3 separate regions of the Homo sapiens genome follow, and regions 1 and 2 are each linked to region 3. Evidence: fine-mapped expression QTL. A gene starts in region 3. Each other region holds a variant in brackets. All regions are shown on one strand. Distances are from middle to middle. Region 1 overlaps TBC1D1 (TBC1 domain family member 1). Region 2 overlaps TBC1D1 (TBC1 domain family member 1). Region 3 holds the start of TBC1D1 (TBC1 domain family member 1).

Evidence for each region. PIP is the estimated chance that this variant, and not a neighbour inherited with it, causes the effect.
Region 1: its variant is fine-mapped to the expression of TBC1D1 in whole blood (INTERVAL, PIP above 0.99).
Region 2: its variant is fine-mapped to the expression of TBC1D1 in thyroid (GTEx, PIP 0.98).

What each region holds. Positions count from the first base shown.
Region 1 is chr4:37,974,714-37,982,893 of GRCh38, reverse strand. The region is part of intron 2 of TBC1D1 (TBC1 domain family member 1); the gene reads right to left. Among named protein-coding and RNA genes, the nearest start is that of PTTG2, 18 kb to the right of the region's middle. RefSeq lists an enhancer at 613-712 and silencers at 4,956-5,255, 5,276-5,325, 5,446-5,565, 5,636-5,705. The variant A/C (reference allele first, on the strand shown) is at 3,311.
Region 2 is chr4:37,984,605-37,992,784 of GRCh38, reverse strand. The region is part of intron 2 of TBC1D1 (TBC1 domain family member 1); the gene reads right to left. Among named protein-coding and RNA genes, the nearest start is that of PTTG2, 28 kb to the right of the region's middle. The variant G/A (reference allele first, on the strand shown) is at 3,825.
Region 3 is chr4:37,886,080-37,894,259 of GRCh38, reverse strand. TBC1D1 (TBC1 domain family member 1) reads right to left here and starts at 3,176. Exons shown (of 22, transcript NM_001396959.1): 1 at 2,912-3,176. RefSeq lists enhancers at 1,029-1,308, 1,739-1,868 and silencers at 1,569-1,618, 2,648-3,147, 3,468-3,657.

The DNA of each region.
Region 1 (8,180 bases), 89 kb before region 3:
TTATTCTCTGCCCTGCTTAGTACATTCGTCAATGAATGAATGATTAATCAGAGGTGCTTCAGGAAAGGAATGAAGGATGAGGAGAGTTTTGATAGAAACAGAAGAACAGGGGACACACATACAGGTTAAAATCAGATTAAAGAATTTGTCTAAGGAAACAAATTATACTTTATCTTTTTTTCTCATCAGGCATTGCTCTGGGCTGTGTTCTATTTGTGGATTAGGTGGGATTTCTATCTCTGCTCTCCTCCATTCTCTTTCAGTAAAACCAACCTACGCCCAAGTTCCTGGCACACTCTAAGCAACTAGAGTTCCCAAAGCCCAAAACACAGCTGCCACCACTACCAGATAAAAAGTGCTCCACAGGAACTCTGCTGAAATCCTGGTCAGGGTTATACCAGCTTTGCTTAGCCGAGGCAGCACATTTTTCAAATTCAAGGAATGGTTTGACTATGACAAGGAGTTCTCCCCTCCTTATTAAACTCAAGCATCCACTAATAAAATGTAGTATGAGTCTACAGAAGAAAAAAAAATTTTAAAACAATACATCACATTAACCTAGGACACACATCAAGGACAAACCAACACTGGACTGACTTCAAGCAACACAAGAAAATTGTTGCCTAAATATTTGCTATAGTCAGATTCACACCTTACATAGGAAGGCTGCTGTGCTGTGTGCTGGTAAACAGAAGGGCAACTCCTACCGCCTACCGGCACCCAAGGTGGGCTGGTCTAGTCTGCAGGAAACCTCAAAGGTAAATAAATAAGCCCAGAGTCAGGACAGAACTTTGCATGGAAGCTGTGCTTAGAAGAAAGAGATGATGGAAGGGCAAGTTGTACTCGTACTCAACATATAAATAGCAATTAGTTACTCGGTTATTTGCACCAAACACAGACAAACAAGATAGCAAAGCCACTGGGTCACATCATTTCAAAATACAGACAATGACTATCCACTGGTATTCCTTTCTTATTACTGAGGTCCAAGCTACCACTATCACCTCCTATCCGAACCAAAACCACCTCCTAAGTGGTCCCTCTGCTTCCATCCGAAATATACATCAGCTGACATCACTCCTCTTTTCCACATCTTTAACGGCTTCTGACTACACTTAAAAGCAAATCCAAACCCCATTCTAAGCCTATGGAGCCATAAACAGCCTGGCCCACCTTACCCCTCCCCACTCAAAGCTCAGTGCTGTGCACCCAGCTGGATATATTCCAGCCATACCTCCCTTCTCCCTGAGGCCTGCCTGGAGCATGTTTCCTGCCCTCTCACCAGTCAGATGGAATGCCACCCCTGCACCACCCCAGCCCGGAGCCACTTACTTCTCTTCCTCGCACTGATCACCATCTGAAATAATCTTGTTCACCTATTTGCTTGCTGCTTTGCTATCTCTCCCATCTAGAATTCCATGAAAACAGGGGTCTGCTTGTCGGTTGCTAAATCCCCAGCTCCTCAAATAGTACCTATTATAGGTAGGTTATCCATAAATATCTGCACTGAACACATTTGTTAAATGACCTGTTGAATGAATGGTGGCTAGATAAACCAATGTTTTAAAAGTAATGCCCAAATACGGAAAACCTGGTTTTACATAAAATATTAATTAGCAATCAGTTACTTGCTTTACAAAAGGATTCTGTGGGCTGGATGCAATGGCTCACACCTGTAATCCCAACACTTTGGGAGGCGGAGGTGGGCAGATCACTTGAGGTCAGGAGTTCAAGACCGGCCTGGCCAACCTGGTGAAACCCTGTCTCTACTAAAAATACAAAAATTAGCTGGGCATGGTGGTGTATGCCTGTAGTCCCAGCTACTAGGGAGGCTGAGGTGGGAGGAGCACTTGAACCCAGGAGGCAGAGGTTGCAGTGAGCCGAGATCGTGCCACTGCACACCAGCCTGGGCGACAGAGTGAGACTCAGGGTCAAAAAAAAAAAAGATTCCTTTTTTAATGCATCTTTAAATATTTAATTTACAAATCTCCAGGGTGCACACTTTTTAAAGGATAATCTATTGTGCAGAGTGAATTAACTCCTCCAGGACATAAACACTGCTTATATACAAAAAGTACCTAATAAAACACTTGTTGAATGAGCACTGGAAAATACACAGTTAAATGCCTTAATTAATACATTAAATACACAGTTAAGTACTTTATTCATAAGGTAAATACTTAATACACACCATAAACTATATGAAACTATACTTGGATTTGAAACACAGCAAACTTGGCTATATTTAGTTCTCATTTTCCATTTTTTCTCATAAACTGACATATGTATATTTAAAATCTACCAACTTGAGATACCAGCAATAATCTTAGCTACAAACTTTATAAGCAGGTGCAAATCCAAATAAATTCTGGAAGTTACTTGGCAGTTCTGCTGCAGTCAGTTTTGACTAACAGATACATGGAGGCATAGAAACAGTAGATATACTCAAAACTGACAGGTTGTTGGGGACATCTGTGAGTTTACTATGAAAATCACAAAGCTTGAGAAGTTCAGTTTTATTTATAAACTGCGTAAAAAGTCAAGTGTCCCCACTGAAAGACTAATCAAGAAATCACACTGCTATAAAGCCCAGCCACATTCTTGATGCAATGTACACCTGCCCTAATGTTCCAGATCATGTCCAATTTTTTTTAAAAGTACATCTTATGTTTTTCTTTCTTCTTTAAACAGATAATCTCTTTAAAACAAAACTCTCCCGTTTTGGCTTTATTCCTACATCATGAAATTGCCCACTCTACACATTCAATATTCACACAATACTAATGCATCGTGCAAGAAAAACACATTCATGCTTGGCCGGGGGCGGTGGCTCACACCTGTAATCCCAGCACTTTGGGAGGCCGAGGCAGGTGGATCACCTGAGGTCGGGACTTCAAGACCAGCCTGACCAACATGGAGAAACCCTGTCTCTATTTAAAAATACAAAATTAGCGGGGGTGGTGGCGCAAGCCTGTAATCCCAGCTACTCGGGAGGCTGAGGCAGGAGAATCACTTGAACCCAGGAGCCAGAGGTTGCAGTGAGCCAAGATTGTGCCATTGCACTCCAGCCTGGACAACAAGAGCGAAGCTCTGTCTCAAAACAAAAAAAAAGAAAAACACATTCGTGCTCAGGTATCCATGTGAATCAACCGACACCCACCCCTTCTCCTTCCCCACCAGGTGTTCAGCTGCAGTTGCAAAGGTCAAAATGAAAAAGGAAAAGGAAAGTCAGCTGCGTAACTGGATGTGCAGGTGTTTGTGTGAGGCCTGTGCTCATGTGCAGCTGTGTGTTTCTGAAGGGGCATTCTGA[A/C]GTCAAATATAACAACTTCAAGATTATTCACATTGTGTACATTATCTATGCCTTTTGTCTTTGTCTTTAGGATATTACCTAGTTTGTAATGTAAAGTGTGTTAATGACTTGCCTCTTCACCGTAAACCACATCAGTTCCATAGAACATCATTCTTACAATCTATAACTCCAAGAAATAAACTTCCAAAGACTAATTTCGTATTCTAAAATCTTTCACAGGATAACACGTTATCTATAAAAATCATTCAATTTCGGGATATAATTTGTAATGCATGCACCACCTACAGGAAATGAAATATAAAATAACCACATTTTAAAAATGTATGCTAAGAGGTATACATGAATTTGCTCCAAAAACATTTAATAGTTTTTCCGCTGTTGTCCTGTAATCGAAATAATAATTTTGAGGGCGGGTGTGGTGGCTCACATCTGTAACCCCAGCACTTTGGGAGGCCAAGGTGGGGGCATTACTTCAGCCCAGGAGTTCGAGACCTGCCGGGCCAATATGACAAAACCCCATCTCTACTGAAAATACAAAAATTAGCTGGGAGTGGTGGCGCACAGCTGTAATCCCAGCTACTGGGGAGGCTGAGACACAAGAATCGCTTGAACCTGGTAGGTGGGGGTTGCAGTGAACTGAGATCGCACCACTGCACTCCAGCCTAGGTGACAAGAGTAAGACTCTGTCTCAAAAATAATAATTTTGAAATAACAAGATTCAGAATCCAAATTAAGCTACCAGCCTACATTTCCTCTATATAAACTTTTCCAACGTACTGACACTCGGAGAAGGCTAACAATCGTCCTAAAAGTCTGTGATGGTTTTTGAAATGACTTTTTAATGACTCAAAACGTTTTTGAAAGTCATCTCATTTTACCACCAGCTATGTTTCAGGAAGTGATTCTAATGGAATGTTATTTACCTAGTAAGAAAATCTACCTAAAAACTTTTGCCCATCTAAAAACTAGTGTTATCTAGTTTCTGTGTCTCCAATTTTGTATCACTTAAATCACAGGCAAAGCCATACCTGCTCACAAACAGGTATTCATAAAAATGTAATTAAATAAGACTATAAAAGCATTGCATGATAACTCAAGACATAACCACCACCTAATTAAATTATTAATTGGTAAAGCCTCACAGTATGGCTAACGAGTTGTGAGCTTATTACTCAACCAGCCATACACAGGAAACAAGCCCTGGGAAGGCGCCGGCCAAGGGACTGAGTGCATGGGGTGACAGCAAGATGCCCTAACGACCAGCGAGCCTTTCAAGGTGGCGAGGGTCGCATCCTTTAAAACACATTCAGACACCTGGCACTGCAGGAGTGGATAAAAAGAATGCTATTGATGCTATTACTGTGTTCTCGAACTGGTGGGAACTCGGGAAATCTACACTTATGCCTTCCTGTTAGCAACAGTGCAACTGGCCTGGATTTGCACCACCCAGTTATCTCGAAGGCGCTGATGTTCTGAAAATAAAACTTTGTGGGAATGGAAAGTTAAAAACTTCTATTTAAAACTCAGACCTCAGAACATGCCCTTTGAAACCAGAGGGTTAAAAACGAAAGACAGACGCCCCTTGTGGGCACCAGCCTCTGGGCATCCTCGGCGCCCTGTCCAGGCGGCCCAGCGCAAGCCGACTTCTGCGAGGGAGACACACGAGGGCGACACCCGCGAGGGAGACACGCGGGGTCGACTTCCGCGAGGTCCCGCGCCGGGGAGGCACCGAGCGGCAGCTCCGCGGCGCGGGGAGCGACAGGGGCCGGAGGAGCCGCCTGCTGGGTTCGGGCTCCCGCAGGGGTCCCCGAGTACAGCCTCAGTCTCCCCAACTGTGAAATGGGCGCCGCTACCTCGCCCGTCCTCCCCACAGGGATCTGGGAGACTAATGAATGAGAAACGCGCGGCTAACGACCTGGTCGCGCCCGCCGCTCGCCCCCCGCCGCGCCTGGCCTCCAGCGGCCCGGCCCAGCCCCGGCCCGAAGGTTACAAATGTTCCAGCCCCGCGCCTGCCGCTCCGCTCCGGTAACGGGCGCCCGCCCGACGCCGCCTACCTTGGCCACCCAGCTGAACAATGGTGACATCGCGGGCCGGGCGGCGGCTCTTCGCCCGCCGGCTCCCGCTCACTCCCGCCGCCGGCCCGTGGGCCCGCGGGCGGCCGGGGGCGGGCTTGGGGAGCGGCGGGGCCGGGGCATCGCTCTCCCCGGCGGCGGCGGCGGCGGCGGCGGGCTCCACCCAGTTCGTCACTGCCCCGAGAGGTCGCGCCCGCGGGGCGGCCAGGCAGAGAAAGGGAAGTGGGAGGGGAGAGCGCGGGGAGGGGGTGGGCGGGGGGAGGAGGGGAGAGGAGGGGAGGGCGCGCAGCCGACCCCGCCCACCCCCGCGCTCCGCTGCTGGCGGGAAGTTGGGACATGCTGGGGTCGCCCCCTTCCGAGATGCCCAGGGCTGCGCAGGAAACCCTGGAGGCTGGGGACGCGCCTTTCCAGGCCTCTGGGGTCCGTTTCGCACAACTTTCAGAAATCTAAGAATTCCTCCCTCTCCGAGGTTCCACAAAAGCCCCAGAGTTGGAGCTAACACAAAGCCCGCCCAACTTTCCAGGGGTGACCCCCACCCCCAGGGCTTTTCTTCCTAAGCGCTTTAGATTGCTAGTAACAAAAGACCAGTGTTCCCCAGCCCCTAATACCTTTATATAATCAAAGGTGGTTTTCTTGGAGTCAGGAAACTCGGCCATTGAGACCAAAAGTGGGGCAGAGGAAAAAGAACCATTTAGCTCCTGCCTGCCAGGAGGCTTTAGCAACTTGAGAAATGTTGATTTCACCATAGTTTTCTTCTCTCCCAAGGCAAGATGATGAGACAAGGTGGTCAGTTTATGGCTACAAAGGTAAAGCTGAGTTTCAATCCCAGCCACTCCTGAGTTCCACGTTGAAAAAAAAAAAAGTCCAAAGGTTTAATCGCTGATGTGTTATGCATGTGTCAGGTGGAACCACTCACTGAGTTCCTCAGGCCAAATGGCCAACCCAGCCCAAGAATTCTGCTTCTCTTTTCCTTCTACTAATTGTGCATTATCTTCTTGAAGGACCATTGGGACATTTTAATGTTGTTCCCTAAATATCTGGCATCTGAGTTTAGTGAGGGTATTAGCTACCTATTGCTGTATAAAAAGTTACCCCAAAACTGAGAAGCTTAAAACCACAAACAACTTCTGTGGGTCAGAAATCCAGGAGCATCTTAGCTGGATGGCTCTGGCTGAAAGTCGCCCTAAAATTTCAGCCAAGCTGTTAACTGAGGCTGGAGTCATCTCAAGACTGGCCTGGGACTGAAGGATCCACTTCCATGCTCATTCACATAGGTGTTGCCCGTATTTAGTTCCTCGCAAGCTGCTGGACTCAGGGCCTCTGTTTCTTGCTGTTTCTTTCCATAGCACTGATCAGAAAATGGCAGTTTGTATCCCCCAGCACAAGTGATCCAAGAGAATGCACAAATCCAAAAACAGTGTTTTATGAATTAAGATGTGACATCCCAACACTTTTGCTCTATTACTGTTTGTGAAAAACCAAAGACATAAGTCTAGTCCACACTTAAGGGGAGGAGATAATATAAGGACATGAATATCAAAAGGAGAGGATCATGGGGGATTGTGGGCGGCAAGCCACCCAGCTGCCAAGGCAAGAGACCCAGGGCACGAGCTGTTCCAGTATAATAAAATATATAAAATAAGAATAGTTATACTAGATATAGATCTTAGATATGATTATATATGAATATCATTAATCATTAGTTTGTAGCAATTATTCTTTATTCCAATATTATAATAATCCTCGCTCTACAATCATAACCTAGGAAAAACCAGGCCATACAGAGATAGGAGCTGAGGGGACATAGTGAGAAGTGACCAGAAGACAAGAGTGCGAGCCTTCTGTTATGCCCGGACAGGGCCACCAGGAGGGCTCCTTGGTCTAGCGGTAACACCAGCATCTGGGAAGACGCCTGTTGCCAAGTGGACTGTGGTCTAGCGGTAGTGTTAGTGTCAACAAAAAACACCCGCTACTTAGCAGACCGGGAATGGGAGTCTCCCTTTCCCCGGGGGAGTTTAGAGAAGACTCTACTACTCCACCTCTTGTGGACGGCCTGACTGATGTCAGGCCTGCCCGCAGTTATCCAGAGGCCTAACCATCTCCCTGTGATGCTGTGCTTCAGTGGTCACGCTCTTAGTCTGCCTTCACGTTCCATCCTGTACACCTGGTTCTGCCTTTTAGATAGTAGTAGCAAATTAGTGAAAGTACTAAAAGTCTCTGATAGCAGAAATAATGTTGTAAGCTGTCTCTCTCTTTCTCTTCTCTCTCTCTCTGCCTCGGCTGCCAGGCAGGGAAGGGCCCCCTGTCCAGTGGACACGTGACCCATGTGACCTTACCTATCATTGGAGATGGCTCACACTCCTTACCCTGCCCCTTTGTCTTATATCCAATAAATATCAGCACAGCCTGGCATTCGGGACCACTACCGGTCTCCACATCTTGGTGGTAGTGGTACCACGGGCCCAGCTGTCTTTTCTTTTATCTTTTTGTCTTATGTCTTTATTTCTACACTCTCTCGTCTCTGCACACGGGGAAAAAACCCACCAACCCTGTGGGGCTAGACCCTACAGGGGATGATAGGGTTTCATCTTTTTTCCACCCTTGTGGTTTTATCTGGTGCATAGGAATAGATAAAACCGTAAAGGCATAGAGAGGCTGGGCGTGGTGGCTCATGCCTGTAATCCCAGCACTTTGGGAGGCCAAGGCAGGTAGATCACCTGGGGTCAGGAGTTCAAGACCACCCTGGCCACCATGGCGAAACCTCGTCTCTACTAAAAATACAAAAAATTAGCCAGGCG
Region 2 (8,180 bases), 99 kb before region 3:
ATGGTGGCTCACACCTGTAATCCCAGCACTTTGGGAGGCCGAGGCGGGCAGATCACGAGGTCAGGAGATCAAGACCATCTGGCTAACACGGTGAAACCCCATCTCTACTAAAAATACAAAAAACTAGCCGGGCGTGGTGACAGGCACCTGTAGTCCCAGCTACTCGGGAGGCTGAGGCAGGAGAATGGCGTGAACCCGGGAGGCGGAGCTTGCAGTGAGCCAAGATCGCGCCACTGCACTCCAGCCTGGGTGATAGAGCGAGACTCCGTCTCAAAAAAAAAAAAAAAAAAACACCAGACTTCTAGTCCTTGACCTTAAAATATCCACATCAAGCTCATTCTCTTTTCCTTAAAATAGGCCTTTCTTCCTACTTCCTTGTTTCCCAAATGCCTTCTAGGTAACTGGGCTCAAAACCTGGTAAGTGGCTTCTGCTCTTCTTTCTCCTTACTCCTTCTTTCCCTCAGCTCTTTGGGTGTATATTCTCTCACCACGAGCCCAAAACCTCAAGCGCTGGTCCGGGCCTACACTTGCTTCAGCCAGACCCCAGCAAGACCTCTCCTCTGCCGCCTCTGGCATCTCCCTACATCCATCCTGCTATCCAGCACAGCCTGATCTTCTGGAAACACAGGTCTGATGGGGTCAGCCTCCTGCTCACAAACCTTCTAGGGCTCCTCTGCAATCCCTACCAGAACAAACACAGTCCTGCTAACCCTCAGGGTCTCCCACCAATGGGGCTCCACTCAACTCTTCCTGCCTTATTTCACCTGGCTTCTTTCTCTGTAAGTTCCGTTTGTACCAAACATGTTTCGAACACACCTCCTAAGCCTCTGTTCATTTGGGTTTCCACCTCCATACCTTTGCTCATGCAGTTTCTTCCACCTGGAATATTCTTTGTCACCCCCTGGATGGGACCTTTGAATCACTCACTCACCTTATTCACTTTCGGGATGAAATGCAGCCACAGGAGGCTGGAATGGCTGGCATCTGGTCACAGAGCCAGGCTAGACACAACTAGACCTCCCCAGTAAGGACTGGTTTTTTAGGCAACACTGGGTCCCTATGATTTGCTTTTATTTGGGATAAAATCGTCCAGTGTAAAATTTCCTTATTAGGCTAAAACCTCTAAGCCCACTAAATTTAAAAAAAAAAAAGAGAGAGAAGAGCTGCCAGTGCCCACATTTCCAGGGACTTGCAGGAATTCTCTGAAACTCACAAGCCTTACCAGGTCTGCATGCTCGTGTTCAGCAGCAGGTGCTAAGTGACTGTAAAGGGCTGTGGTGCCCACCCTGGGGTCTTCATGCAGGGCTTGAGGGTAGAGTCACCCTCTGCCCCATAGTGACAGGCCAGCTGGGCTCCACTGCCTCCATCTACTCAGTCAGGATTAGCACAAAAACTTGTTAGAGAGGTTTAAAGAGCCCCCAGATCAGCGGAGAGGTACTCCAGGACACTGTGGACTGTTCTTAACACCCACACCCAAGCCAAATCTCTGGCACCCAGAATAAAAATGATGTTTTTGAGAAGGACAATATCTAAGTTAACAGTGTATAGTCAGTTCTACTTATCCCTGATCAAAATTAACCGTGAGGTTGTAAAGTGGGATTTACTACATTTGGGAAATTATTACCTCTGTATACCAAGGGGCTACTCAGAGGTTTACAGTTCCCCACCTGCTTTCTGGCAGGCTGACTCTGTGACTGCCTTCACCACCTTCCCCCCACCCACCCCCGCCCCAGGTCAGCAGCTGGGTCTCTCTCATCTTGGCAGTTGTGTCTCAAGTGCCTGCCACAGAGTAGAGGCAAAAGAAATAGATTGTGATCAACACTGAGCTTGAAGCGGCCAGATTTCTTGACCAAGAACGTCTGGAAACACCACACTACTCCCCCAAATAGTGTAGTTATTGCAAAACAAATACAGAGTTGTGTGGTCTGGTGGTCTAGTACATCCAGCTCTTTCCTTGGGGAAAAATATCCAGAGACCACATTCTCAGCTGATTAACACACTAGAGAATTGACAAAAATCAAACTTTGGTACGATGTTCTTTCAGTTACACCAAAACTGGATGGCACAGACTTGAAGGGCTGCTTTTACTGAAACACTAGTGTGATAAAAATCCCTATGTATTATATTCACATATTTCTGGAAATGGAAGGAGAATCCCTTCCCTTCACCTGGAAATTCAGGAATACAGCTTTTTCTGGAACCGTAAGAAGGCTTTGGCCTTAGATGTACTAGCAATATTTCATGCTTATTATACAATTAATTGATTAATAATCAGTACACAAGGGGCCACAAACTCCTTACTCATAAGCGGGCTTTTGGTTGTGTTTCTGAAGTCAAATTTTACAAGTTCTAATACAGGGGTATCCAATCTTTTGGCTTCCCTGGGCCACACTGGAAGAATTGTCTTGGCCCACACATAAAATACATTAACACTAATGATAGTTGATTAGCTTAAAAAAAAAAAACTCAATGTTTTAAGAAAGTTGATGAATCTTTTTTGGGCCACATTCAAAACCATCCTGGCCTGTATGTAGCCCACAGGCCGTGGACTGGACACTTGCTCTAACATTTTAAACTTGGAAACTTACATATTTCTTTTAAAAGCCTAACACAATAGAGACTGTCACAATAGACCAGTGTAAATGTCCCTAAGCAAATAACGTCTCAAAAATCTGACAGTTTATTTCCACCTAATGACTGGTTTCCTTTGGGCCCACCCTTTAAAAAGAACTTCCGCAAAATACCACTTGGCTAATTCTCTGCCTTGGGCAGTCCTACAATTATAAATTCTGCTAAACAAATAAACTTCCTTCCTATTTTTAAAGTATTCCAAAATTGGAAACTCTGTGTCTTTGGTTGGCAAACTATTTTCTGGAGTCTAACAGCCTTAGCCATGAAGAAATTCTTCATTGCACTCTGAGAGACGAAAAAAACCAGAAACTGTCAAGGAGTCCCTCCCTACACCTATTTCAGGGAAGGGGAACTAACCCCACAGAGTTGTGACCTTGGGCAAGGTCACACAGGCTGCTGGTGGCAGAAGCCAATGTCCTCCTCTCTCCCCCATTTTCCCCTTAACTGATCTAAGTTACTTGTGGCCTAAAGAAAGCAGTTTGCTCTTGTTCTGTACTAGGGAACAGGGTTTATGTTTAATTCATGCAGAATGTGCTAGAACAACAGAAAGAATCTAAATATTAGTGTCAGCAAAAAGAATCAATCTCCGTAAAACATTTAAAGAGATTTATTCTGAGCCAGATGTGAGGACCACGACCCATGACACAACCCCAGGAGGTCCTGAGAACACGTGCTCAAGGTGGTCGGGGCTATAGCTTGCTTTATACATTTTAGGGAGACATAAGACATCAATCAATATATGTAAGGTGTACATTGGTTTGGTCTGGAAAGGTGGGACAACTTGAAGGTGGAGGGGAGGTTGCAAGTCATAGGTGGATTCAAATATTTTCTGAGTGGCAATTAGTTGAAAGCGTTATTATCTAAAGATCTGGAATCAATAGAAATAAGTGTGTAGGTTAAGACAAGGTCATAACCTGGGTGAAGACCAAGGTTTTTATCATGCAGATGAGGCCTCCAGGTAGCAGGCTTCAGAGATCTTATCAGACCTAACAAAAAATGTGCCAGACTCTTAGTTAATTCTCTCCTGGTTCAAGGAAAAGATCTGGAAAGTGAAGAGGATTCTTTAGAGAAAGTAGATTTTCCCCATAAGAGACAGCTTTCCAGGGCCATTTCAAAATATGCCAAAGAAATATATTTTGTGGTAAAATACTTCAATTTCTTTCAGGGCCTGCTATGTCAAGTGATGTCAGACT[G/A]CAGTTAGGCTGGAATTTGAGATCTGTTTTGGCAGTCTTAAGATCTCTGTTTTAATGTTTACGCTGGTCAGTTGTGCCTGAATTCCAGAGAGAGGAAGGTGTAATGAAGCATGTCCCCTTTCCCATCACGACCTGAACGAGTTTTTCAGGTTTCTCTGGAATGCCCTTGACTGAGGAGGGGGCGGTCCATCGGTCAGTTGGGGTGCTTCAAATTTTGTTTTTGGTTTCCATTTGAATGAGTGCCAGGTGATGCAAAGAGCTCTGTTTGGATCTTAGCTGTGGCTTTGGGAAAGACATCTCACCTATAGTGGGCTTCATGTTTCTTCATCCTTAAAAAGAGGGAATGCAGCTAAGCAACTACAAAAGTCTTCCTCCACCCCTAAATTCAATGATGATGATGGTTCACGAGTACTAAGTGCTTAATCTAGGTACTAAGTGTGTTATGTGGATAAATCGTCAACCGCTTAGAGGATAGCTGTTTATCATCCCCCCTTTAATGGATGAACACATTAATGTCTAGAGAAAAAAATAACTTACTTAAGGTCATCCCTCCACTGGTAACTGGTGGAGAGATCTGACCTAGACCAATGATTTCAGGGGCCCTTTCCTCCTTATCAAAGGTAGACAATCTAAGATAGTTGGCTTGACTTGCACTCACAGGGACACAGATTCTGAATTGAATACAACTGTAGCAATCATTTAACACAATGTTCTCATTTTATAGATCAAGGACTGAGGCCCAGGCAAGTGTAACTTGCCCTAGGTCAAAAAATGTATTGGAAACACGTGCTACACCCTGCTGTTCCTAGACAAGTTCATCCAAAAGAGTGCTTGACGGTTTACATGCACTTACATCAGCTCACGTGATGCCAAACAAGGCTACCTGATGGGCACCTGGCATTGATCATCTTTCCCACTGTCGCCTAGCCAAGGCTAAACAGCAAACACAGAGCACACTGGGACCTGCACCCCACGCCTGCTACTGCCTGCCTAGTGTGCTATCTATAGGCCGATAAAACATCCACAGTATGATGCTCTGGAGAGTCTATGCAGAATCGACTCCTAAAGAGAACTTTCCAGGTAAGCTGAATAACTATGAAACATGGTTCTGTGGTACTTTGAAAAGAATATCAGAGAATAAGTGAAAACACTCTAAAATCCACAACTCAAGTCAACGAGAAAATGCAATCTCATGTGGTCACTCAAAACTGACCTCTTTCGGTCTATCATTGAATTGTCTTAACCTCCTCCCAATCTTCACCTTCAATCTTCTATGTGATTTTTCTCTTATTTCCTGTTTCCTTCTCTCCCTAACTGAGAACATCACAAAATTCAGGGATTTAAAAAAATGTTACACTTCTTATATAGTTTCCATATGGTATATCTATTTTTAAAAGCAGATTAGTTGAATGTTTTATGTCTCTCACCTAAGAAAGGGGAAAAAAGTTCAGTTTCTCAGTGGAACAAGATATTTTTCTAAGCTCTGCTGCCCTTGTTTCACATATTGAACATGCGTTGTAATCCCCGTTACAGAGACAATGCAGGTACAACAGATAAAATATGAATTTAGAGCCAAACAAGTCAAGCTTTAATCTTATTAGCTAGGACACGGTACCTAGCCTTTCTGAATTTCAGTTTCTTCATATTTCTTTCCTGAAAAAAAAAAAAGTGGAAGGAGGAAATAATACCACTACTGCCACAATTATTTTGAGAATTAAATTAATTATGAGACTTCTAACACAATGGCTGGCACATATAAAGTTCTGAAAAATATAATCATCTCTTCCCTTGTTATTCATGCTAAAATAATTGTCCCTTCTATTAAATGCCATTTGCAGTCGATGTTTTTCTGAGCAAAGTCAATCTCTCATATTAGAGGGAAGAGATCCATTACACACACCTACCCCATCTCCCAGAGGATGCCTTCCGGGAAACAGGAGCACTCAGTGAATGGGTGGGTCACTGCAGCCCAGTGCTAGGGAGCTAAACAGCCACATTAGACATTGGCAACTTGCACTCTCTTCAAATACTCAGGCTGTGCTTCTTCTTGCACAGTTAACACAACTGGTTGGTCCTACCAGGCTGCAGAGACACCCTTCACATATCAAAGGATCCCCACCCACCCCAACCCGACTACTCAGGCTTCCTCTCCTTGCTCATTTCCCTGCAGGCATCTTGACCTGAAATTTGCAAGAATACACTCATCAAGGGGTTAAATAAAGTATCCTGGGTCAGGCACAGTGGCTCGCACCTGTAATCACTTGAGGCAGGCAGATCACTTGAGGTCAGGAGTTCAAGACCAACCTGGCCAACATGGCGAAACCCCATCTCTAGTAAAAATACAAAAATTAGCCAGGCACGGTGGCGGGCACCTGTAGTCCCAGCTACTCTGGAGGCTGAGGCAGGAGAATCACTTGACCCCGGAAGGCAGAGGTTGCAGTGAGCCGAGATCGCGCCACTGCAATCCAGCCTGGGCAACAGAGCAAGACTCCGTCTCAAAAACATAAATAAATAAATAAAGTATTCTGAAATACAATATATTGTTTGATAGATGTGCATAGTTTTGATTTTAGTAAAACAGTTTGAAGATGAAAGTGCAAACAAATCAGCAGAGCAATATTAACAATGTACCTCAAAAACAGGTGTCCAAGAACTTTTTAAGTTCTGCCATAAACTAGCTGTGTGATCTTGTTCAAATCAAGTTACTTCATCGCTCTGGGTGTCAGTTCCCCATGTAGAAAAGAACAAATGGAATTACATTCAAGATGACATTCTGGTTACACCGTAATTACATTACTAAATCCTACTAGAATGACCACCACCCTAAGCCACAATTACTGATAGGTATTTGAGGGCCATAGGCAGTGCTGGTATGAAAGAAAAGGTCTGAGTAATTTATTTATACTGATGTGCCTTCCCCAAGGTTAAAAATCAGTGGTCTCAAAAACAAGGCAAACAGTTGGAAAGCAACCTTGAATCATTCTGAAACATGCTAGAAAACTACCAGTAGTATTTCCTCACTATTCCTTTTCATAATCCACCACATCAATGACCTACAATTACCCTTGACTTCACTCAGACCTCATCTTCTAGTCTCCTCCAAAATCCCAGCTGAGTGATTCTTCGTGCATATATCACATTAAAATTAAATTATCTCCACAGGTCTCCCTCTCCCCATTAGACTGCAAGCTATTCAAGGGCTGGGCCCATGTCCTACTCATCTCAGTATCTACCCTGCCTAATACCACACATGCCATTAACTTAAACTGCCCATTCGACCATGTTTTAAATGGTTTACATCTGAAGATAGTCTTCACAATTTCCTAAGCAGATTTTGACATTAATGGATTTTAAAATAGGAACTATTTTTAAAAAGATAAATACAAAACAAGTATATATTAAGTTCATTTCAGACACAAGAAAACAGGCTCAGCAAAGTTAACTTAGCCAAGTTCAACCAATGTAAAAGAACAGAGCCTGTGAGTCTAATCCCATTATAACATGACAGATATAAAAATGATTTACAGGAAAATAACCAAAGTGCATGAAAATTAAGGTAATTTTTCTGTCAGCTTTTTCATATAAATTTAACAAAAGAGCACAGAGTACTTGTTCACCACTCTTCCAACAACAAAATCAGAAATCATAGAAATTTTAAAATGGAAAAACCAGATACTTAAGATTAGATTCATAAATATCATAAATATAGGCTGGGCGCGGTGGCTCACGCCTGTAATCCCAGCACTTTGGGAGGCTGAGGCAGGCGGATCACAAGGATAGGAGCTTAAGACCATCCTGGCCAGCATGGTGAAACCCCGTCTCTACTAAAAATACAAAAAAATTAGCCAGGCATGGTGGCGCGTGCCTGTAGTCTCAACTACTCGGGAGGCTGAGGCAAGAGAATTGCTTGAACCCGGCAGGCAGAGGTTGCAGTGAGCCGAGATCACGCCACTGCACTCCAGCCTGGGTGACAGAGCAAGACTCCATCTCAAGAAAATATATATATCATAAATATAACCAAATAAAGGTCTTCCTATAGGTTGTACAGATGTTCGTGAATATTACTGTGCATTCTAAAATAAAATTCAAAAGCACTAACATTTTCTTTTTTTTTTTTTTGAGACAGGGTCTCACTCTGTCACCCAGGCTAAGTGCAGTGGCACAATCTTGGCTCACTACAACCTCTGCCTCCCAGGCTCAAGGAATTCTCGTGCCTCAGCCTCCCAAGTAGCTGGGATTACAGGTACACGCCACCACACCCAGCTAATTTTTGTATTTTTCTAGAGATAGGGTTTTGCCATGTTGGCCAGGCTGGTCTCAAACTCCTGGCCTCAAGTGATCCACCCACCTCAGCCT
Region 3 (8,180 bases):
ATCCCAGCACTTTGGGAGGCCAAGGCGGGTGGATCACAAGGTCGGGAGTTCAAGACCAGCCTGGCCAAGATGGTGAAACCTCGCCTCTACTAAAAACACAAAATTTAGCCGGCCGTGGTAGAGCACGCCTGTAGTCCCAGCTACTTGGGAGGCTGAGGCAGGAGAATCACTTGAACCCAGGAGGCGGAGGTTGCAGTGAGCTGAGATCACGCCACTGCACTCCAGCCTGGGTGACACAGCAAGACTCCTTTCAAAAAAAAAAAAAAAAGTCAAAAACCTTGAAGCATGAAAACCTTCATGTCTTTCGTGAAGAATCTGGTCTAAAGATATTTTTTATTGGAATGTGGTGTTGGAAAGGAAGAAAAGTCAGTGAAGGAAATTGTAAGGTAACAGTTCTGACTGAAAACCTAAATCCTTCGTCATCACTACAGGGATACAAACCCCAACACTACTCTGCTGCTGAATGGACTCAGTGGCACGATCATGTTTCACTGCAACCTCCGCCTCCTGGCTTCAAGCGATTCTCCTGTCTCAGCCTCCCAAATAGCTGGGACTACAGGCACATGCCACCATGCCTGGCTAGTTTTTGTAGATCTATATTTTTGTAGAGACAGGGTTTTGCCATGCTGGCCAGGCTGGTCTCGAACTCCTGACCTCAAGTGATCCACCCGCCTTGGACTCCCAAAGTGCTGGGATTACAGGCATGAGCCACCATGCCTGGCCATGGACTCAGTCATTTTAATGAGCAGATTTTACTTCTCAAGTTTAATGACCAAGAGATGAAAACTGCTGAGAAATATATAAAATATTGAAACTAACGTGGTCATTAAACTTGAGAAGGGCAGCACGGTAGACTGGAAAAGGGCAAAACAAATGATCCTGAGGCACCCACACATATACAGGAAGTCCCCAAATGGGCCGTGATACATTTTCAGTCCTCTGGGAATCTGAAAAGAGCAAAAACTGGGGACCTACAGAGAAATGCTGTGGAGAGAGTAGGAAGGACTTCAGGGAGCTGCCATTCTGTCAGATCAAATTAAAAGCATGTTCAAAGACAGAATCCTCTTGAGCCCCTTGCTCTCCTCCCTACCATCTACTCTAGAAAGCTGGTGGCCAACAGAGCAGGCAGCTGTGGTGCCTGCTCCAGGCACCAAGACAACTGAAGATGCTGCTGTGAACACAGAAGAGGTAACAGCCATGCTGCTTGATTCAGGCTCCCCACTGCTTGCCAGGGTTACATCCTAGAAGATCCTAGAAGATCTGGACCACAAAAAAGCCACCCGCCCACATCTGGCTCTGCATAGGGGTACATCTCATTGTCATTGCAGCCTTCCTGGTCAAAGCTGTCTTCTAGGGAAGTGGGGGACAGGGATTATCACCAGCTGGATAATGAGGAAGAAGGGGCAAGCTCTGTTGCTTCAGAGTTGCACGTTTCCTCCTAATACCCACTAGTGTTTTGACAAACTGTGCCTTATGGGACACCAGGTCAACACTGCATGACTGCCACCCAACCAGAAATGCTGTCGTGGTGAAAAGGGGAAGCCCCAGCACTCTCAGTGGGGTAGATAACAATAGACTATGACAAGGAGACGCATTTGCAAAATTTTCCTTTGAAAACGTAATGTAATAATTTATAACTACACTAGTGATTTTTTTTCCTATTCTCCTGGTTTGCAAATGGCTGGACAAATCCACAGGAAAGAAATTATTTTAATTATCACCTGATGATTTTATTTCCTGCTTTGAACCACTTAGTCCCTTCCAGGTCTCCTTGCACTCAATAGTGTTAGAATGCTCTACTTGTGTTCACTTCAGAAAATGTCCCCTAAACTCTTTTTTTTTAAGAGATGGGATCTCACTTTGTCACCCAGGCTCCAGTGAGGTGGCACAGTCATAGCTCACTATGGCCTCGAACTCCTGGGCTCAAGTGATCCTCCTGCCTCAGCCTCCCAAGTAGCTGGGACTACAGGTGGGTGCCACCACCCCTAGCTCATTGAAAAAGTTTAGAAGTTTGAACTTGTACAGATAGCTGAGTTTCTTGGGTGTGACCTATTTAAACCAGGTCATTTTTAAATGCTCTTTCAAAGTCTGATTTTATTAATAAATGAAATCATCCCATCATAAGGGAAACAATGAGAAATCTATGAAGGGAAAACATATCCATTAATATGAGGCACCCTGAAAATTAAACTGTTTGGTGGAAGGAACAACCATCACTTTCAATTTCTTTTTAAAGCAACTTCCAGAGAATAAGCTATGTTAAGTAAAATCAAAACAGGAAAAGCCACATCTAGGTGGATTTCAAACGAAATGATACCTCTCTGAAAAAAAAGCAAAAACAAAACCTTAATGCCTGGTGAAGTTTGAGGGGGGTCTCATAATCACAGAGCCATCAGGAAGCGGCTAGAAACAATGAAGCAGGGTTTCAAAATGACTGGTACAGGATGTACCCATAGAAAGAAATGTTGCGCGCACTGGTGGAGCTGCCAAAGTTACTACTGCAAAGTACCCTGAACTTTTAAAGCGTGGCTTGGGGTCACTCTGACCACACTCTTTCCAATCTGGTCGCCTTGCAAACACGCTAGGATAATTGGCGGGAGGGGGGAGGGGAGAGATGCGCGGACCAGTGAGCTGGCGGGGGTTGGGGGAGAAGCCGGCGGAGCTCTCGGGTCGCTAGCAACATTAAGGTTTCGCTTTCGTCCAAGGGCGGCGGGGGTGGGGGGGTAAGGGGGGCAACGAGATGGCAATGAACTTCCTCCCCCGAGAGACCCTGGCCTCGCGTCCGTGGGCGGCCAGATGCCTTCCCCTCCGCGGCCAGGCGGGGCAGGGGCGTGCTGCGGGAGGGGGCGGCCGCGACGCCCCGAGAGGAGCCAGCAGGGTGGCCAGGACGAAGCCCCAGGAAGCGCCTTACCTGTGCCGCGGCGCGCTCAGAGCCCGGGGCCGGGCCGGGACGCGCAGGTGCTTGGGGGCATCCTGGGGACGGCCTGGGCGGGCGGGGAGTCCATCGCACCCGGCTGGCTGCGCTCTTCCCGCCGCGGGGGGACGGGGAGGGGGCTCCCCTCGGCTCGGCGCCCGCCTCTTCTCCACCCAGCTGAGGACACAGCAGGTCCCGCGGCGGCGGCAGCAACAGGCACCGGCGGACGGTGGCGGCACCAGGAGCAGCAGCCGAAGAGGAGGAGGAGGAGGAGGAGGAAGAAGAGGAGGAGAAGGAGGAGGTGTCTGCGCGCGGCTCTGGTTTCCTCCTCCCAGCCTGGGCGAGCGCGCTGGAGGCGAGGGGAAGACAGGAGCCGGGATCTCCCCACTCGGTCCCCGGGGAGCTGGGAGGGGGACTCGGTGTCCTCCTCCTCCCCACTGCGCCGTGTGACTGTGCCTGGGCAGCACGGCCCGGACGGGCGAGTCACACGCGAGCAACAGCTGCTGCACTGCGGGTCCGCCGCGGCCTCCCTCCCCTCCTTGCCACCCCCCGCCCCCAAGCCCGCGGGCCATCCTCAGCCAGTGTCTGTGGGGGGAATAGGGGGGAAGTACTCGGGCCGCCGCCCCATCCAGACCCCTGCGCAGGATCTGGGCACAGCGTTTCCCTGGGGAGCCGGGGGCGCGGGGCCCCGCGCGTGATGCAGGCCCTCGTGGCGGGATGTACAGTCGCACACCCTGTCCTTGGCGGCCTATTTATAGCAGGTGGCACTGCCCGCCGCTTGCTCGGCCTGAGTGGCTCTCAGCAGGTGGCACTGCCTGCCCGCTCTCCGCGCTCCCGAAGGCGCCTCGCCTCATCTGCACCCTCCTCTTCTCCCTCCGAAACAGACGTGGTGGAAACTGCACACAACATGGGGGGCGGGGGCCGGGGGCGACCAAGCCACCTTGCTCTCCCCCGCCTTACCCCTTCTCCCCGTCCTTGGAGGATGGCAAGAGGTGAACTGAGGCACGGATGCCCTATGGGGCGCTGGCATGCGAGGCAGGAAAATCAGGGACTCTGGGAAACAACGAAGGCGAAGTGCCCTCCCGGGATTAAACACCAGGAAACTCCATTTCTAACCAATTGCGGGAGTGACGCAGAGCCTGGATTAGGCGCTTTTTCCTGCCCCGCGAGCCCGGCACACGCGCAGGAACACACACCACACGCACACGCACACCCCAGTGTGCATGCCCCGATCAGGTCTGGGGACATTCCCAGCGGTGATGTAGAGTGCAAGGAAAGACGCGGAGATGTGAAAAGCGGGACAGAGCTCGCTCCCTAAGACTAGGGGATGGCAGTGTGCAAAAAACAGGCGAAGCTCCCAGATCCCTATCCCACCAGGCACAGAGGCGCAACGTCACTCGCAGGGTGGGGAGAGGGATCTGAGAAAAGTAAGAAGCATCACATCCTCTCCAGAGAAGAGTCCGCAGGGAGGGGAGAGCCGGGTGCTCGGAGGAGGCAGTTCCAGACCCCCAGGTGGCATCTTTCTGGATTTTTTTACTTAATGTAGCTGGGGGTGGACTTTAGGGAAGTGGCTGAGCGTTTGAGCTGTACGGTTGGACTTGAATCCAAATCCCAGCAGGTGTGGTTTAGGCAAGGTGCTGGACCTCTGGTCTTCATTGTCTTACCTGCTAAATGGGACCAATACACACCTTACAGGATCTTTGTGAGGACAAAGCAGGAAAGTGTAAGTAAAGTGGCCAGTGCAGTGACACAGACGTACATGGTCCTCAACTAAAAGCAGCAGCTATTATCAATATTACTGTGGCCCAGGAGGCAAATAGAGGGCCAGGTTTCCTCATCGTACCAAGAGCAGTGTCTTCCTTGAAGCCCACTGAGCTTCTTGTAGGCTTTTAGATTAGGGCTGTCTTATGGCATTCCCTGATTTCCCTGGATGCTTACATCCAGGGGAGGTATTTTTAAGTGGACCCAAGAGTTTTATTCACAGCTTGACTTAAAACTCTCACAATAGTGGTAGCTATTCTTTACGGAGGAGTTAGTCGATTTGGGGTATTGTGCTAGATACTGTCCTTATATATTGTTGCTAATTTGCTCAAAAACTCTGCAGGGCAAAGATTGTTAAATCCATTTGACTAAGGAGAAAAGTAAGAGGTTAGTGCCTACAGGGTTAGTGGGTGCTGGAATCTCCAAGATCCAAAGCCCTTTATAATATACTTGCTCTCTGGCCACTGTGTAGCCCTCAGCTCATTCTTTGTCATTGAGTAGTTATTTGTGTGCATAGCCTCAACTCTTTTTTAAGAAATATACAGTCATAAATACTGTAATGAGTAGAATGTTAACTGGGTTATGGAAATTATTCTTTAGGTTACAAGACCAGGTAAACCAGTTAAACCATATTGTTATCACTTGGGTCATATCCCAAATTATTTCATGTTTTTACCTTCAACTCTGTTGTAGAACTCTCTCTCCCTGTCTGCAGTGACCTGCTGCACACATTTACCTCCAGAGTGCTAGGAGGTCGAGAAAGGTACACTAGCATTCATTTCATTGACACTGTAAACTGCTTTTTGTATGTAACCCACCAGAGGATGGTTGAAACTGTTACCTAACAACCCTGCTTGCCAGGCCCTGCTCCTGGGAAAAGGGGTCAGGCCAAGGGGAACAGAGATAATTTGCTGGGCTCTGCTTACAGAACATCCTGGCTAGAGCCCCCTCCCATCCTGCCACTCCACTACCTTTTCTTTCCCTCACTTGCTCACCTCCTCTACCCTCTCTTCACCCTTACCCCTAGTCCCAGAGTACAGGAAGGCTTAAGTACAGGTAGGCAGCCAGGCGGGGTGCCTAACCAGAATACAGATGTAGGAAGTCGATGGGTGGGGCCCAGATGCAGGCCCAGGCCTCATATCTCTCAAAGCATTGACATCCAGCAAGTTCCAGCTCAGAGATTTATAATTTAGTGGCAAATGACCATTTGCCTTGACCCTTACCTAGGTTAGGGAGAGGTCATGGCCTTGTGAGAAGCAGCAATTTCTGCATCACTTTTCCAGCTCCCAGGACAGCTAGCACCCTAAGAATGATGAGGAGGGATTTTACCATACTTTCAACTTCTGGGAAACAGAACTCCCTCTATAGTATGCAATAAGGATTGTTGAAATTCTTTTTAAAATCTATACAGCATTATCTTAGAAATTAGGGGACAGCTTGCTATCAATCTATTTGGCCTTAGGTTTTCTAGCAGTTGTAGAACAAATAGTAAAGGGGACTTTGAAGCAGATGGTGATACCTGGTATGGCAGGATGAAGACTGTCAAATGTGGTTGGGGAGATCCATACTGGCCCAGTGCAGAGTGCAGAAGTAAGAGCTCACCACTCAGCTCTTACCTGCAGGTGCCATTGCTCTAGGAGGGAAGTAGCTCCTTCCCCTTGATATGTGGCCACGTGACTCCCAGGAGAGCTGGTACACACCATGGTAGAAGCGTGGGCCAATGGGGCCTTGGTGATGGCAACAGAGAGCTCCCTCAAGGCCCAGGAAGGTGTTCTGTTGGTCCCTCTTTAAGTCACCGATAACAAAAGCAAGCAGAGAATAGGGCCAAATGCTCCAATGATTCTGCTTCAGCTTCTGATTCTTCTGACGGAGTATGACCCAGGAACACAAGGAGTGTGGAGCTCTTCACCACCATGGGCATTTAGCTGACATCAGCTATGGACCCATTGGCTCAGCGAGTGAAAACCCTGATGCGAAGGCACCGACCATCATGGCTGCTGCACTTTTCCTGTCTGGACAACTTCCGCACCTCCAGCTCTTCCCAAAATCCTGCCATGGATCATTCTTTTAGGGCTTCTCCCATAGACTCTTTCCTAATTTAGCTATTTGCAGCATAATTAGTTATTCATTGCCAAAAGCCAGGAACATTAATATCAGCTTTAAGATGGCTGCAGAGCTCTAGAAAATTGTGAACCATCGATGCTATTAAATCACATGAAAAGCTCAGAGCCTGAAAGAAAACAGAGGCCACTTTACTTTTAAAAAGTTAAGGGAACCATGGGAACCATATATACATCTAGAATTAAAATCTTTCGTTGATGTAGAAAGAAGACCTTTAACAAAATTAATCATCATTAAATCCATCAGTTAGGTATTTAAATGCTCATATTAGTTAGGAATCCAAACTATTGCTATTATATATTTTTACTTAAATTCAAAATGTGCATAATAAGGTAGTGGGTCCATTTCCAAAAAATGGCATCAATAAAGGCAAAAAATAAGACTATACTGGCTAGAACCCTAGGATAGTAAGGTGGTTCACTGGGTATGCTTGTTCCCATTGATTGATAGTGACTTTCTGGAGCCCTGAGTGGACGAGGCTTGTAAGGCAAGTCCATGCTCAGTGGGAAAGGGTGCAAGATTGAGAAGCAGCACCTGCCTCAAGCATGGGAGGAGGCAGCATTGCAACACCAGCGCCAGGTAATTTGCCAACCCTGTCAATCCAAGGCATAACAGTTAGATCTAAAGAGTTTGTGAAGGCTGGGGTGGTGGCTTATCCTATAATCCCAGCACTTTGGGAGGTTGAGGTGGGCTGATCACTTGAGCCCAGGAGTTGGAGATGAGCCTAGGCAACATGACAAAACCTCTATAAAAAAATACAAAAAAAAAAAACTTAGCTGGGCGTGGTGTTGCACACCTGTAGTTCAAGCTACCCAGGAGGCTGAGGTGGGAGGATGGTTTGAGCCCTGGAGGTTGAGGCTGCAGCAAGCTGTGATGACACCACCACACTCCAATCTGGGTGTTGGAGTGAGAAACTGTCTCTAAATAATAATAATAATAACATAGAGTCTGTTAAGTTATGCCCAAATATCTTGTTTTCTTTCTTTTCTTTCTTTCTTTTTCTCTTTCTCTTTCTCTTTCTTTGTCTTCCTCTTTCTTTTTCCTTCCTTCCTTCCTAGCTTTCTTCCTAATTCTTTCTTTCTTTCCTTTGGTTTTGTTTTCTGAGACAGGGTCTGGCTCTGTTGCCCACGCTGGGGTGCCGTGGTGCCTTCGTGGCTCACTGCAGCCTCGACCTCTTGGGCTCAAGCTATCCTCTGCTCAGTGTTCTGAGTAGCTGGGACTACAGGCGCACACCACCACACCCAGCTAATTTTTAAGTGTTTTGTAGACACAGGATTTCGCTGTGTTGCCTAGACTGGTCTCAAACTCCTAAACTCAAGCAATCCACCCACATCGGCCTCCCAGAGCGCTGGGATTACAGACGTGAGCCACTGCGCCCAGTTCC